Linked DNA regions of Homo sapiens: region 1 is reported to be linked to region 2. Evidence: microRNA targets listed by miRTarBase, many of them from high-throughput screens and not tested one by one. Region 2 holds a microRNA gene; the other region holds the end of a gene's coding sequence.

Region 1 (3,504 bases), not on the chromosome of region 2:
TTGGCCATGTAGAGGCACTGGGCTGGAGGGGAGAGGACACTGAGGGCGCAGCCTCCCAGGCAGGGCAGGGTACAGAGAGCTGCGCATGGCCTTTTCTGCTCCACCTGAGGGAAGAAAGGTGGGCTCAGCCTGGGTGCTGAAGACCATGAGCGCCCAGGGCCAGGTGGGGCCCTGCACAGTTCTGACCATTGAGTTTGGTGTCGCCCGCAGGGTCAGCCACAACAACAAGGTGAATCTCATGACCAGCGAGAACCTCTCCATCTGCTTCTGGCCCACCTTGATGAGACCTGATTTCAGCACTATGGACGCCCTCACAGCCACGCGCACCTACCAGACAATCATTGAACTCTTTATCCAGCAGTGCCCCTTCTTCTTCTACAATCGGCCCATCACCGAGCCCCCCGGCGCCAGGCCCAGCTCCCCCTCTGCCGTGGCTTCCACCGTCCCCTTCCTCACTTCCACGCCTGTCACAAGTCAGCCGTCGCCCCCACAGTCGCCTCCACCCACCCCCCAGTCCCCAATGCAGCCACTGCTTCCCTCCCAGCTTCAAGCCGAACACACGCTGTGAGCCACCAAGACCTGGGGCGACAGGAGAACCGGTCCTCTCTCTGACGGGGTGGCATTTGGCCTTGAACAAAACCAAGTCCACTGGGGACAGAGGCAGGGGCAAGTGGCTCTCCCCATTACCTTCTCAAGACCTCAGTGGGAGCACCAGCCAATGGTACCATCGGCTGGGCTGCCAGGTACCCTGGGCCTGGCGCTGCAGACCTGAGCTGGCTTGGACCCATTTGAGGACTGAACTAGGCAGGCAATGGCTCCAGTGCCCTCCCTCTGTTCCCTGGACCACCACCCCACGTAGCTGCTCACACCAGCCTCCGGGTGCCTCCCTCTGCTTGTACAGAGCCCATGGTCGGGACAGTGCCCTGGCCTTTGCCGGGGAGGAGGATGCTCTGAGATTCAGGGTGGGGCTGGCAACCCCTGAAGAGAACACTTCCTGTTGGTCTGTCTCTTCCCACCTTCCATCTGCACACACCCCCAAGGTAAGGGTACAGCCCGGCTGGCGGCCTCCTTGGGAACGTGTAGGCCACGGCTCTGCCACCACTAGGTACCTGCTGAGGGCGCTGGCTCTGCAGATCAGAACAACGGAGGATAGCTTTGTGCCTGGACCCAGAGAGTGTGGGACTCCCCGCTTCATCCCCACCGTCCCACTCCACAGCCTTCCCGAAACATTCCCTGGCAAACAAAGGAACACTAGGAGAAAAAATGGAAAAACCCTTCCAGTAATTAAAAAGGAAGAAACCACAGAAAGAAAACTACAGACCTCAAGATTCCACTCTGTGCCCGCCTCTGCCGGGAGGGAGGGAGGCACACAGGTGGAGCTGACCCTCGTCTTTGTGGCAGCAAAACCAGGATGCCTGGAGCTGTGGCCTGAGGGCCTGCTGGGGTCCCACTCACCCACTTAGGTCTAGTCGCTAGATCCCCCGTTTTCCCAAGAAGAGGGTTCGAGCCCTTGGTGGGGACAGCTGGGGAGATGGCAGTGCAGGCTGGAACCTGGGCTGCCCCAGAACACAGTCCATTACGATAGAAACACTAATTGAGCATGTGCGTGGGGTGGGGGTGTGTGTGCACATGTGAGTGTGAGTGTGTGTGGGCGCTTGGTGGGGGGTTGGGGACAGCTGGAAGGTGCCAGGTGCACTTGGGGTTGGGGTTGGTGTGTTGGGTGTTGAAGTGGAATCGTTTCATCCCAGCCATGGAGGCCACCAGCAGGAGTGTTCATGGGGATGTGGGCGAGGTGGGGCACTTTGAAGGAATGGCGGTCTGCTGGTGCCCTCGAAGGGGCATCCTTCCTGGTCTTCGCTGACCCAGAGGCGCTGTGCCTGCATATCATCCACCACCACCCTAGCCCAGCCTTCCCACTGCCCCAGGAAAAGCTCTTCTCCTGGCCACCTCTGCCCCCCAGCACCTCAAACTTGCATGGCTGGGCTGTGGCCTCTGCGGCCAGGAAGCCTGACACTAGGCACCCCCCAGGCGAGAGCTAGTGGGGTGCAGAGGGCCCCATGCCAGACAGCCCTTGGGGCTCGTTGCACTTTAAGAAATAGGATCTGTGGTGTATTCCAGGGGGCCTGATGGACACCTTTCCCGGGCGTCTGCAGCTGCCCTGCCCGTGCCCGCCTGCAGTGGTTGGAGACGGGAGTGGCCCTTCGGCTCCCGAGCTCCCTCTGGGGACGGCTGGCTCACTGTCTCCAGTTCTCAATGGCCAACGAAGGTGCTTGGAAACACCTAACCTTGCAAGTTTTACCGCCTTTTGAGGAACACAAATCGGAGAACAAACCCAGGGTTCAGGCGTGTTTTCTGTGAATGTTGGATGATGAATTTTTGTCTCTTCTGGTGGAGCTGTGCCTGGCCCTGTAGGCCCAGGGTTGGCTGGAAGGTGACATCTGTGTTTCGTTTTAGCTGAGGTTGGCAGAAACGTTCCCAAACTCCCCCAGCCCTGGACCCCAGCAGATGAGGAAACGGCCCCATTTACTGACCCCGCCCCCTTTTCGAGGTTATGCTCACCTGGTCAGCTCCTCACGTAATTGGGGGTGGAGGGAAAGCATGGTGGTGCCCTGGGCCGTCCCTGTGTGAACGCAGGCAAAAGCAGCCCAGTCCCCCTCACTGCTTGAGCTAACACTGCCACCTCTTTTGTGTGAGCACAAAAGCCACGTCCCAAGCCACCTGGCCCGATTCCACAGATGTATGTGCGGCCAGTGACTTCCCCAGGAGTGTGGAGGGGGTGGTGAGGAGGAGCACCTGGGCTCTCTACCCCTCTCCTCACAGAAGTACCTGAAACTAGGTCTGGGGCACTCCCAATGCAGCGCCTTGTCAGCCAAGGTGGGCAGGCAGGGACTGTGGCAGCTTATGTCCAAAGGGAGCCCCCATGCACAGGAAGCCACAGGGTTCCTCTTGTTTCCCCCGCTAACTTCAGCCTCTCATCTGCTGCTCCGGGCTGAGGGACTAGAGGACATCTCGGTCGTTTGAGGGGCATGGCCAGTCGTGGCAGGCCGGCCTTCAGCGTCCGGTCAGGGAAGCGTGCAGCCCAAATGGGCACTTGCATGGGAGCCACAGAGGAGCGTCCCTGGGGATTGTTGGGACCATGCTGCCCCCACTCCCGCTTTTGTTGGGGCTCTAAGTTCTGGAAGGTGTGTGCACAGAGGGTGCTCATGGGACTCGCATGCAGCTCTCAGCACTGGGTGGGAGGGCGTTGGCTTGTCCAGAATGGGGACGTGGGGCAGCCACCCCTGCCCAGCGAGAGCGCAGACACCGTGTGAGGGGACAGCAGCCCTTGGTGCAAAGCCAGAGACTGATCCTGGCTCTGACGGCTGAAGAGGGAAGACCCAAGGCTGGGTGGCGTGGCTCGTGAATCCACTTAGAATTCTTGGCTTGTGTCGCATACTGGGTGTCACGGCACACATTTACTCTGCATTGTCCCCGTCTTTCCCATCGCCTAGCGTTTGGGGAGGA
Region 2 (3,000 bases):
GAACTTGCCTTGAGCCACGTCAAGTCCCGTCCGTCGCAGCCACTGCCCACAAGCGTGAGTCTGCTGTGAGCCAGCGGCTCCATGGCAGGGCATCCCAGCGCCATTCCTGCCTTCACACACACTTGCTGCCGTTTCCCTGTGCTGGGGGCTGTGCAGGTCTGCCTCGGTGTGGACTTTTCTCTTAGGAAAGAGCCCCAGGTCGGCCGAGCACGGTGGCTCATGCCTGTAATCCCAGCACTTTGGGAGGCTGAGGCGGGCAGATCACGAGGCCAAGAGATCAAGACAATCCTGGCCAACATGGTGAAATCCCGTCTCTACTTTTTAAGTATTTTATACTTAAAATTTTTGTATTTTATACAAAAATTAGCGGGCTTGGTGGCAGATGCCTGTAGTCCCAGCTACTCGGGAGGCTGAGGCAGGAAAATCACTTGAACCTGAGAGGCGGAGATTGCAGTGAGCCAAGATGGCGCCACTGCATTCCAGCCTGGGCGACAGAGCAAGACTCTATCTCAAATAAAAAAAAAAGAAAAGAGCCCCAGGTCAAAGGTCAGCGTGCGTGGTTGGAAATTGCGACCATGCTGTGAGCCTGCGGCCCTTGGACTGCCTGGGGCGCCCCGGAAGAGCTTACTGGGCATGACAGTCACTGACCTGTTTGCCCCTTCTTGGGTGGGGCCCGTCCCACAGTGGCGGTGCTGTGTTTGGTTTCCCGAGTGCCGTAGGAAGGTCTTCGCAGGCCGGGCTGGTGTCCTGAATGTCCATTTTCAGGAGAGGAACTGGGGCTTACCCTGAGGGACTCACCCGAGCCCTTGTGGCTGGTGTGATGCCCTCGAGTCCTGCCCTGCTCTGCTCTGGAGTGTGGCCATTCGGACACCTGTGGCTGTGGAACCACTGTCCTCACTCTGTGGGGACACTTAGAGGAGCCCGCAGAGGTGTGGTTGAGAGCTTTGGCGGGGGCAGGGCGGTGTCAGCGCATGGTGACCTGCAGCATTCCTTGTGCCCACAGGAAAGCGGAGGGAAAGGCCACTTCCACCACTGAGCTGCCCCCCGAGTACCTGACCAGCCCCCTGTCTCAGCAGTCCCAGGTACTCAGCCCCCTCCGTCCCGTGGGCACCTCTTCCCCGGCGCCCCCCCTCACCCTCCCCGCTTGTCCTCAGCTGCCCCCCAAGAGGGACGAGACGGCCCTGCAGGAGGAGGAGGAGCTGCAGCTGGCCCTGGCGCTGTCACAGTCAGAGGCGGAGGAGAAGGAGAGGCTGGTAAGCCGGGTGGGGCGGGGCGGCCTCAGGAGGGGCCCAGCTCCCCTGGATGTGCTGCGGTGGGGCCGGAGGGGCGTCACGTGCACCCAAGTGACGCCCCTTCTGATTCTGCCTCAGAGACAGAAGTCCACGTACACTTCGTACCCCAAGGCGGAGCCCATGCCCTCGGCCTCCTCAGCGCCCCCCGCCAGCAGCCTGTACTCTTCACCTGTGGTGAGCGGCCCTTGGGCTGGAGCTCCCTCTCCTGGAAGGCAGTAGGGTTGATGGGGGACGCGGGTCCCTGAGCTGATTTAGTCAGGTTGGTGGGGGATGCGGGTCCCCGGGCTTCCCAGAGAGGACAGCCCCAGCACACGGGCGGACATCAGGGCAGAGCCCCACGGCTCCAGGCACCCGTTGCTCCTGGTCCCTGGTTCGGCCCTTGGGACTGAGGACATGGGACAGGCTGTGGGGGAGGCGCCTTGCTGGTGAGACCCCGTCTCTTCCACACCCCTCCCGCCCCACAGGAACTGAAGGACTTGCTTTCTGGGGCATCCACGTCACCTCTCCCTGGCCTCAGCCCCGCTCTCAGTAGAGGGTGAAGAGGCAGCCTGTTTTGCAGGGGGTTGGGTCGGGGACAGCAGGTTGAGAAAGTCATTTTGTAGGTTCCGTGGAGTGGCCAGGCCGCTGCAGGCCCAGGGGTGCAGAACAGCCCTGCCCCAGTGAGCCACCCCTTCCCTTCTTCCCTTCCTTCCGGGCTGTCGGCTGGGGCCCCACACGCTGGACCGTGGGGGCTGTCCAGTGTCCACCTTGAGGCCCCAGGGCTGGCCCAGTGCCACCCTGTTCCTCCCATAGCAAGGTTAGGAGCCTTGTAGGACGGCAGTGCTGTCAGCCTCTGTGGAGTTCTAAGCATCTGGAAGAGGAGAAAAGATGGCTGCTCAGATGCCAGGAACCAGAGGAGGGCACGGAGGGAGGGCCCAGGCTGCGGCTCTGGTCTCCAGGATCTGTCGCACTGGGGACATCCCTGTCCCTGCCGAAGCAACTGGCTCTGTCACCTGTGAGACTCAGATGCCCTTTTCTCCCCAGAACTCGTCGGCGCCTCTGGCTGAGGACATCGACCCTGAGGTAAGGCCCAGCATGGGGTGCATCCTCTCACGGTTTCTGGCCTTGGGAGTGACCCCCTCATTGCCTGCAGCTCGCACGGTATCTCAACCGGAACTACTGGGAGAAGAAGCAGGAGGAGGCTCGCAAGAGCCCCACGCCATCTGCGCCCGTGCCCCTGACGGAGCCGGCTGCACAGCCTGGGGAAGGGCACGCAGCCCCCACCAACGTGGTGGAGGTGAGGGGGCCACTCCCGGCATTCCTAGTGGCAGGGTCCCTTGGAAGGGGTGGATGCGGGACAGGTTGGAGGCCCCACTCATTCTCTCTCTTCCAGAACCCCCTCCCGGAGACAGACTCTCAGCCCATTCCTCCCTCTGGTGGCCCCTTTAGTGAGGTAAGCTGTGGCTCCCTCCACGGGCCAGGGCAAAACATGGCCTCCTGGCCCACAGCGCCAGGCACATGGCACAGGTGCCTGCCCTAACCAGAGGGCCGTGCTAGAGCAAGGGTGTCTGCCCCAGCCCAGCCCTGGCCTGCCCTGCCCTGCCCTTTGTGGCCTCTCCCAATGGAAACTCTACACCAGGCTGTGGTCCAGAGCTCGGGCCACTCTCTGTGGACCTAACATGGACCTGAATATTCCAGAGCAGCCTAGAACCATCAGATGAGTCCTTGG

Evidence for each region. The annotated mature microRNA hsa-miR-6786-3p reads UGACGCCCCUUCUGAUUCUGCCU and lies in region 2 at 1,345-1,367, shown strand. An mRNA with a match to its seed (bases 2 to 7 or 8) in the 3' UTR can be bound and repressed. Matches are read on the target gene's strand: a 7mer-m8 pairs with bases 2 to 8, a 7mer-A1 pairs with bases 2 to 7 and ends in A, and an 8mer does both.
Region 1: miRTarBase lists ARHGAP35 as a target of hsa-miR-6786-3p. Seed matches in the 3' UTR shown: 7mer-m8 at 2,142-2,148.

What each region holds. Positions count from the first base shown.
Region 1 is chr19:47,000,121-47,003,624 of GRCh38, forward strand. It overlaps ARHGAP35 (Rho GTPase activating protein 35), which reads left to right. Exons shown (of 7, transcript NM_004491.5): 7 at 211-3,504. The coding sequence ends at 568. Among named protein-coding and RNA genes, the nearest start is that of NPAS1, 18 kb to the right of the region's middle. RefSeq lists enhancers at 2,341-3,086, 3,087-3,504.
Region 2 is chr17:81,692,500-81,695,499 of GRCh38, forward strand. It overlaps MIR6786 (microRNA 6786), which reads left to right and starts at 1,258; the gene lies at 1,258-1,370. HGS (hepatocyte growth factor-regulated tyrosine kinase substrate) reads left to right here. Exons shown (of 22, transcript NM_004712.5): 9 at 1,004-1,082; 10 at 1,155-1,253; 11 at 1,371-1,466; 12 at 2,316-2,354; 13 at 2,425-2,568; 14 at 2,665-2,724. RefSeq lists a silencer at 177-362.